Regions from separate parts of the Homo sapiens genome. Here region 1 is reported to be linked to region 2. The links are microRNA targets in miRTarBase. Many come from high-throughput screens and were not tested one by one. Region 2 holds a microRNA gene; the other region holds the end of a gene's coding sequence.

The links. Region 2 holds the annotated microRNA hsa-miR-345-3p (GCCCUGAACGAGGGGUCUGGAG, at 1,370-1,391, shown strand). A microRNA usually pairs through its seed, bases 2 to 8, with sites in the 3' UTR of a target mRNA and lowers its output. Matches are read on the target gene's strand: a 7mer-m8 pairs with bases 2 to 8, a 7mer-A1 pairs with bases 2 to 7 and ends in A, and an 8mer does both.
Region 1: the mRNA of DLL4 is a reported target of hsa-miR-345-3p. Seed matches in the 3' UTR shown: 7mer-m8 at 3,588-3,594.

Annotation. Positions count from the first base shown.
Region 1 is chr15:40,937,664-40,941,907 of GRCh38, reverse strand. DLL4 (delta like canonical Notch ligand 4) reads right to left here. Exons shown (of 11, transcript NM_019074.4): 11 at 2,835-3,879. The coding sequence ends at 3,874. Among named protein-coding and RNA genes, the nearest start is that of DLL4, 10 kb to the right of the region's middle. RefSeq lists a silencer at 1-258 and enhancers at 1,549-1,608, 2,891-3,707.
Region 2 is chr14:100,306,543-100,310,786 of GRCh38, forward strand. It overlaps MIR345 (microRNA 345), which reads left to right and starts at 1,317; the gene lies at 1,317-1,414. RefSeq lists silencers at 1-362, 453-522 and enhancers at 613-682, 713-882.

The DNA of each region.
Region 1 (4,244 bases), not on the chromosome of region 2:
CCGAGAAGCTCGCGGCCTTCGGCGGCTTCCCGGCCCGGGAAGTGAGCCGGGTCGGCTGCCGCAAACAGGAAGTCGGGCTGTAACAAAGAGCGCGGGGGGCGGGGAGCCGCGGGAGCTGCGGGGCACGGCGGCGGCAGGTGGAGGGCTGACCCGGGCGGGCAGGCGCACCTGCCCCTTCCGCCGCCGCGCAGGCCTCGGGGCGCCCTGGGCGCGAGGGAGGGCGCAGCCGCCCAGGGAAGGCCGCTGGGACCTCGCAGGCGCATCCCCGCCCGAGGAAGGGACAGTCACAGTTCCCCCAGTGAATCATTTCCACCCCCTTCCCGGAATGCAGCAAGCCACGTGGGGCGGAGGGCTGGGGCCGCTGATCCTGTGGATCCAGAGGGAGAGGCTGGGAGAGCTGCGGCGAGGGAAGCTACGGAGAGCTCTGTGGGTCCCAGTCAAGAGATGGAGCATCCACACCACCGTGGTTTAGTCTGGTGGCCTTTTCTAGCCTGGGATGGGGGAGGTGGGAGCCACTGTCCTTTTTTCCCTACCCCCTGACCAGGCTGACCCTGGCCCTGAGGCAGGAGAGGAACCCTGGCTGAGCAAGCAGGATAAAGTCATTTCTCCTTCTGCACAACCCCTCCCTGACTCTACCAGCCGAGGGGCCCTGGAAAAGCAGCTGTCCTCAGGTCACCGTGGGGTCAAATTGATTCTCCAGGCAGGGCACTGGCTCCAGGCTGTTAAGGAACTACTAAACTCCGAATTCCCTGGTGAAATACCCATGCAAATTAAAGGTGGGCATTTGCTAACCTGTGGAAGGCACCTCACAGTGAGTCTAGAACCATTATCTGGCCTCCTTTCTGCCAAGCCTAGGAAATCTCCTGTACCCCAGGACACTCAAGTGATCATGAGGGTCTTGGGTGCCTTACCTATCAGAAGGGGCTGGACTCTCAGGAAATCCTGGGGAGAAGGGGCTTCCTCCGCTGTGGCCTGTTTACACCCCAAGTGCCTGCCCAGCTTGTGGGATGTTGTTAAAGGTGGAGCCTGGCATGAGCTGCAGGTCGGAGCTGCCCAGACCAAGTTCCCCACGGGTCCCCACTTTCCCCAGAAAGCCAGCTTTTTTGGTGGGCTCTCCAGCTCCCCATCTAGTGCATCAGAGCAGCTGTGAGCTTTGCCAGCCAACTCCTCTCCGGGGCTCTTCTCTGCGAGTCTGGCAGCCTGTGCAGCCCGTCACAGCCTGGTGTTGTGGACGTGCAGGGCTGCGGGTGTCCTACCTGTCCCCCACATGGGAGCCTCGTCATCTTGCCTTCGTGTCCCAGCCCAGTTCCCCCCTCCCGTACACCCCTAGGGCCTGGGAGCTGCTTTCCTGTTTCATTTTGGGCAGGAAGAGTGAGGTCGTGTTGTTCTTCCCCCTGCTGCCGGCTCAGGCTGTGGGAACGGTTCCCTGAATGCTTTCCTGTTTGATACCCTGTGTGTACAGTGAAGGGAACAGGGAGCGATGAGTGAGGCGTGGAGCGTGTGCGTGCTCCTGTGTCTCTGGCATAAGCACCCAGGTCTGGGGTGGGCATGGTGTGTCTGTGTCAAGGAGAGAGGAAAAAAGGGAGGGCAAGTAGCACTCCAAACCCTTGGACTCCATTAGGAGCAGGGCATCTAATGGGTCTATTTTGCTTTACTGTGGACAGGCTGAGAGCTGGGAGCATCTGCTCAGCTTTTTGTCAGTGGCTCATTTTTTCATAATTTGCTCTCCATGGAGGAGCATATTTTCGGCTATAGAGAGGGCTGTGGCACCCTAGGGACTATCCTGTGCCTTAGAGGAAGCTAGGCATGAAACTCCTAGTGAGACTGGAAACCCCCTCATTAGTGCCTCAGCAAGAGAAACCTGGACTCAGGGAAGGCTACCTCCTCCTCCCCTTTCTCCCTGTCTTTGCAGTCTTCAATAAATTCTAGCAGCCCTGGGCAGACAAGGTGCTCAGACTCTCAGCGCTCTTGTCTGCTACAAAGAGGAAAAACAAGGCAAACCTCCCTCCTGCCCTGTCTCCTGAGACCTGTACCCTGCTGGGGCTAAGAAAAGAGCCAGGCACCCTGCAACAGCAGGAGGAAGGACTCAGATGTCACCAGGGTGCAGAGGCCCTATCCCATCCACCGACGAGAGAATGCTTTTTTTTTTTTTTTTTTTTTTGAGATGGAGTCTCGCTCTGTCGCCCAGGCTGGAGTGCAGTTGCGCTATCTTGGCTCACTGCAAGCTCCACCTCCTGGGTTCATGCCATTCTCCTGCCTCAGCCTCCCGAGTAGCTGGGACTACAGGCACCCGCCACCACACTGGGCTAATTTTTTGTATTTTTAGTAGAGACGGGGTTTCACCCTATTAGCCAGGATGGTCTCGATCTCTTGACCTCGTGATCTGCCCGCCTTGACCTCCCAAAGTGCTGGGATTATAGGCGTGAGCCACCGCTCCCGGCCAAGAGAATCCTTTTGAATATGAGAAAAACAGGCAGAACTAGGGAGCCCCATAAGCTTTTTCAGGCTTGAAGAGAGGAAGGAAGAAGTGATTCAGGTCAGGAGGAACATGCCCCAGGAATGGTGAGGGCATAAAGAGGGAAGGGGGCACTGTACCAACTCAAAGTCAGCAGGCAAGGAAGGCTGGCTGAGGCTGGGGACTAGATGGGTGAGGCTCGGCTCCTCAACGAATGGAAGAAGACAAGGGCCTGGGGTACGACATGCCAAATCCAAGTGTCTGCACGGGTCCCAGGGGTTCCGGCGGGGCACATGGCAGCAGTAGAAGGGAGTTTAGAGTTTTTTGGGTGAGAGGGCAGGGGTACCATCACAAAGACAGGACCCAATAAGTAATAAACTCCTGTACACATCTGTTTCATATTATAAATACACATTATATACAAAATAATGTTATAAAATGTAGAAAGGTCAGTGCTTCTGATTCTTAAATTATTGAAATACTAGACTCCAAAATAAACTACAAAAAAAAAAAAAAAAACAAAATAAAAACTCATATTATTGATTTCTGAAGACCAGCTTTGAGGGTGGTCTGGGGCAGTAGTGGACCAGAGCCCAGGCTCGAGGTTGTGGAGATGGGCTTGAGGGAGGAAAGGGCCCAGGCGGCCGCAGCACCTGATTTCCCCCTCAGTGGAATTTCCAACACACTGCCCTGAGTGCCCCAGTTAGGCCTGGCACCCTTGGCTGGTGGGAGGGGCAGGCCCTCTGCCTGTCTGCTTACAGAAGCCCAGGGCCAGAGGGTGGTGGAAGCCGGGTAGACGGACATTCTTGCCCAAAGGGCCTAGACCAGAGAGCCAGGCCTGCATACAGTAGTTGGAGGCATGGGGCAGAAAGCACTCCCCTCCCTCGAGCACTCACCTCACCTCCAGGGCAAACCCCAGCAAGAGACGCACCCAGTGGTTTTCCAGCCCACAGGAGGCCCTGCCCTCATTGGCCCCCTCTCTCCTTTCTGATTTGGGCCCAACTGTCGCCGTGGAGCCTGGGCCAAAGGCACTTTTGGAAACACGGATGCCAGTGGAGGCCACAGCAGCTCCGGGCCCCATGGGGCTACTGCCACTCTCTCTGGAAAACAGGCCGGAGCCCCGGAAGGAGCCCCCTGAAGGCCACTACTGGCAGGGCAGTGCCCAGTGGCATCTCTCTTCTCTTCTGTTCCTCTGGTTGGTGCAGCTGCCAATCTGATGCCAGACAGACACCCAAAGGTGTGGAAGGGTATTGCATCTCTTGGCAAGTTCACAGTCTGTCCGGTTCCTGCCATTCCCTCCTCCTCCTGAGAGCAGCACGTTGCATATGAAAAACGTCCCATCCAGGATGCAATGTAAACAATGCAGAAGGAAGGTCCAGCCGCGGGGCTGAGCAGGGATGTCCAGGTAGGCTCCTGCCTTATACCTGGGAGCAAGCGGAAGGCAGGGAAACAGGTTACCCTGGGCATGCGCACTCCCTCCAGGCCCTCCCTGGGCCTCCCTGGGAGAAGGCGATGGGGCAGGCAGGGGCTAAGGGCAGGTGGGGCAGTCCTCCCCAGTCTTCGGCCCAACACACACACGGGCCTGGGAGCTTGCGCTCATGAGGTCAATGGAGGAAGCCAGTGGGAAGGGGCAGGAAGGGCACAAGGGGTGAGGGGCCCCCTCACCCATCAGAGGCTGGCCAGCAGTGCCGTGGCTGCCCAACCCAGCACCAATACAGCAGGAAAGGACCAGACCAGGCTTGCCGCCATGGTTCCTGTTTCACACCCTTAGTGGCAATGAGGCCAGCAG
Region 2 (4,244 bases):
GGCGGGCACGGCGCGGACAACACCCCGGGCACTGCGCTTCGCCGCCGCGCCTCATTGGCCGGGCGTGCGCGGGAGGCGGGGCGCGGGGGACGTGGTGGGCGCGCGGGCGGGGCGCGGGGACGCCTCAGACAAAGAGCGCGCTGGGTGCGCAGGTCCGGCGGGAGGGGACGCGCGGGGTGGCGGGGTTGAGCCGAGGACTCCCCCACCCGGAGTACGCGGGGTGGCTCTGGTCTGGACCGGGTCGGGAACCGGACCCTGGGTTCGGAGTCCGGCGCCGCCGCAGAACCTCAGCGCCCTAGTCTGTGCCGTGCGGACCCTGCCGCGAAAACGGCCGTGGAGCGCCGGGACGTTCCGAGGCCCGCAGACTGGGACGCCGCTAGTTGCGAAACTCCGCGAGCGGGAATCGCCCGTGGGGAGCCTCTGCCCGTCCCGCCTGCGCGCCCGCGGCGGCGGTGGCCTCCGGGGCTTCCGGACTCCTGGCCGAACCCGCCGGGTTCTGGGGGTCGGACGCGCACGGGCGCTTCCTGCGGAGCCTGAGGCTGGGATTTGGGCGGAGAGCAGGGAACCTTAAAAGGGAAAGGGGCCATGGGCAAAGGGCGCAGCAGGCCTTCGGGCCACAGCTCCTTCCCGAGGACTGCGGGTCGCGGGAGCCGCGGAAGGTTGTGGAGAGAGGGAGGTTCCTGGACTGGGCTGCAGAGTGGAGTCGGGCCAGATCGCAGCGCCTCCGTCAGCGGCGGCCGGACGGGGCGAGACCGGAGGGGCTCGGTAGGGGCCGCGCTCAGGCGCTGAAGTCGGAGGGTGCTTGGCTCTGGGTCACCAGGGTATCCATGGGCTGCGGGGATGAATGAGAGCCGAGTCTGACTCGGCCCCCCAGGAGTCCCTGACATTCGCAGTGGCAAGGGACTGCCCTGGTCCCTGTGGAGCGTCCCATTCGGTGACTTCCCACCAGCCCTTCCCCAGCGCCTCTGGAGGTCCAGACTGTCAGGTTGGAGCCTGGGAGCAGGGACGGGCCAGGCGCTTTCTCTTCGCTGTAGGAGTCAGATCAGCCTTAGGCCGGGCCCAGCTTCCTTCTTTAGGGCCTGCAGGCAGGCAAGGCCACACCGTGTGCCACGTTTCCAGGTTTAGGGTCACATGGTTCTTTTATCCAAATTCCAGTGGGTACCTACCTCCTGGAGGTGCAGGTCGAAAGGTTCTGTGTATTTGGTACTAGGACACACAGGTAGGTGTTGTCAGTAGTGCAGCCTGGTGCTAGGGGCAGGGGTCCCCAGTGCTCATGTTAGTTTCCTTTTAGAGTCTAAGTAGAATGTTAAGCAGAGACCCAAACCCTAGGTCTGCTGACTCCTAGTCCAGGGCTCGTGATGGCTGGTGGGCCCTGAACGAGGGGTCTGGAGGCCTGGGTTTGAATATCGACAGCCTCTCTGACCCACTTGGTTGCCTCAGGGAGGCAGGTGTGCGGATGGGGGAGAGTGGCCCATGGGCCAGAAAAGCAGTGGTATGGGGGCCCCAAGAGAAGCCCAGACCCAAAAGGGCAGGAGCTGGCTGTGGGGCTACTCAGGTGGCTGGAGGCCTCCTGCAGACACAGTGATTACACTGGACTACCTACATGTAGTCACTTACCTTAGGAACAGGATGTCCTTGGGATGCTGGAGGGCTCATGAGGTAAAGCACAAATCCCTGCACATCCATTCCTGGTTGAGGAGGTTTGGGAGGGAAATCCAGTACCTTGACAGCATGTGGCAGTAGTGAGAAAATGATGGAAACGGATAAGGAGACAAGCATGACCTGTTTTGCTTTGTTATTGAGAGAATGCACATGCCTTGAAAATTATGCTTGGGGCAGGTTGCACTGAGCTGTCAGTCCCTGGGGTCCTTGGGAAGGGGCCTAGTAGCCTGGTAAACAGTAGGTATTCCATAGTTGAGCTTCAGAAACCTCCTTGAGGCTGGGTTCAGTGGCTCATGCCTGTAATCCAGGCACTTTGGGAGGCTGAGGCAGGAGGATCGCTTGAAGCCAGGAGTTTGAGGCCAGCCTGGGCAACATAGTGAGGCCCCATCTCTAAAAAAAAAAAAAATCGGCAGGATGTGGTGGCGCATGCCTGCAGGCCTGTAGTCCTAGCTACTCAGGAGGCCGAGGCAGGAGGGTCGCTTGAGCCCAGGAGGTCAAGGCTGCAGTGAGCTATGATCGAACCATTGTGCACCAGCCTGGATGACAGAGCAAGACCCTATTTCAAAAAGAAAAACCTCCTTGCAGGGAGGGTCCTTTGTTGAGAGAGCTGAGGCAGGCCGTGTGAGGGCAGCAGTGGGATCGTGCCAGGCCTGGGAGATGAGGAGTGCGGGCCCTTAGCTGTGCACTTTGCAAGGAGAGGGCAGGGTTCTGGGTGTGTGTGTGTGGTCGGGGGAGGGCTGTTGGATTTGGGGACTAAGGTCAACATGTGGGGGACAGTGGAGGACTGGGCTCTGGGACAGATTTGCCTGACCTGACCCGCCAAGGGAGCCTCAGCTCCCTTGTGGGTGACAGGGGGCTGCCTTCAGCTGGAAGTACCCTGAGGGCAGGTCCCAGGTCTGTCCCCTTCATCTTGGTGTGCCCAGGGCCTGCACAGTTGACACTGGGTGGGGGACATTGGGGAGGGGGTGAGGACAGGCACTGGAAAGGGATGCGTCCACACGGGTGTGCTGCTGGGTTACTAAACTTTGCAAAACCACATCTTCCTGAGCACCCTGTTTCCCTGCTGCCTGGGAATCATGCACTCAGTCGGCGCACTGCCCTGTGCCCTGTGTTGGGGACAAGACAGACACAAATCCCTGACCTCCATGTCAGGGCTGAGGAGAGACCAGAAAGGAGGAGTGAAAAAGTTGGTGCCAAGTAAATGAATCCGTATGCCTACATCTTGGACACTTGGGTTCAGTGTCTATTGTTTTATTTCATTTCCTGAGGATAAGGTTACAGCACAGAATGTGCTTTCTCAAACTCCCATGTTCCACAGAGCCCTGGACCTCCCATCCCAGAGGAGGCAGGGCTCTGTGCAGCCCTGAGGACCCCAGCCTTTTAAGGGGCAGGGCAGACCCAAGGCCAGCACAGGACAGCAAGGCCGGAGGGACTGTCACGGGGCACCGAGGGTCAAGCCAGCTCACTGGAAAGGGTGTGTTGGAGTTTTCCCTGTGTACAGCTTTTATTCTCACACAAGACAGGTTCAGTGTGGAGAAATCAGAAACGCCAGAAAGTAAAAAGGAAACGCAAGTCTCTGTCCCCACCCTGGAATCTTGGAGCTGAATGACCCCCTGCAGGAGCTGTTTGGGCCAGGACTTGGGGGGGGTGGCTGCAACTCAGGCTGCCAGAGGGCAAGTTGAGGGGGAGAGGATGAGGCACCAGCTGTGTAGACCTTCCCAGGAGTTAGGCTGTGCAGGGGAGAGTGCACAGAAGGGCTCTGGCAGCAAGCACAGGTGTAGACTCGGGATGGGAGCCACCTGAGCAGGTTGCAAACTCCTGGCCAAAGATTGGTGGGGCCGGCGCGCTGTCAGTCGCCTCCTGTCTCATATTGGAATACTCGAGCTCAGTGCCATGGTGTGAGGCCCAGGGTAACCAGACTACAACCTCACCTCCCACCTTTCATGCCCTCTGGCCCTCTTATTGGAGCCCACCCTCTAAGCTTGTGCCCCTCTCAGGGCCTTGGCACTGGCAGCTCCTCTGAGTCCCTGGGGTCCTTGGGAAGGGGCCTAGTAGCCTGGGATTACAGGCACCCGACACCATGCCTGGCCAATTTTCTGTATTTTTAGTAGAGATGGGGTTTTGCCATGTTGGAAGCTTCTGCCTGGCCTGGCGTCGTTACCTCTAGAACTTGGGTTCTGGCTGGGCGTGGTGGCTCACGCCTGTAATCCCAGCACTTTGGGAGGCCGAGGCGGGTGGATCATGAGGTCAGGAGTTCAAGACCAGCCTGGCCAAGATGCTGAAACCCCGTCTCTGCTAAAAATACAAAAAAATTAGGCGCGGTGGCAGGCACCTGTAATCCCACCGACTCGGGAGGCTGAGGCAGGAGAATCGCTTGAACTCAGGTGGCGGAGGTTGCAGTGAGCCGAGATCTTGCCACTGCACTCCAGCCTGGGTGACAAGAGTAAGACTCCATCTCAAAAAAAAAAAAAATACAAAAATCAGCTGGGCGTGGTGGTGCATGCCTGTAATCCCAGCTAATTGGGAGGCTGAGGCAGGAGAATTGCTTGAACCTGGGAGTCAGAGGTTGCAGTGAGCCGAGA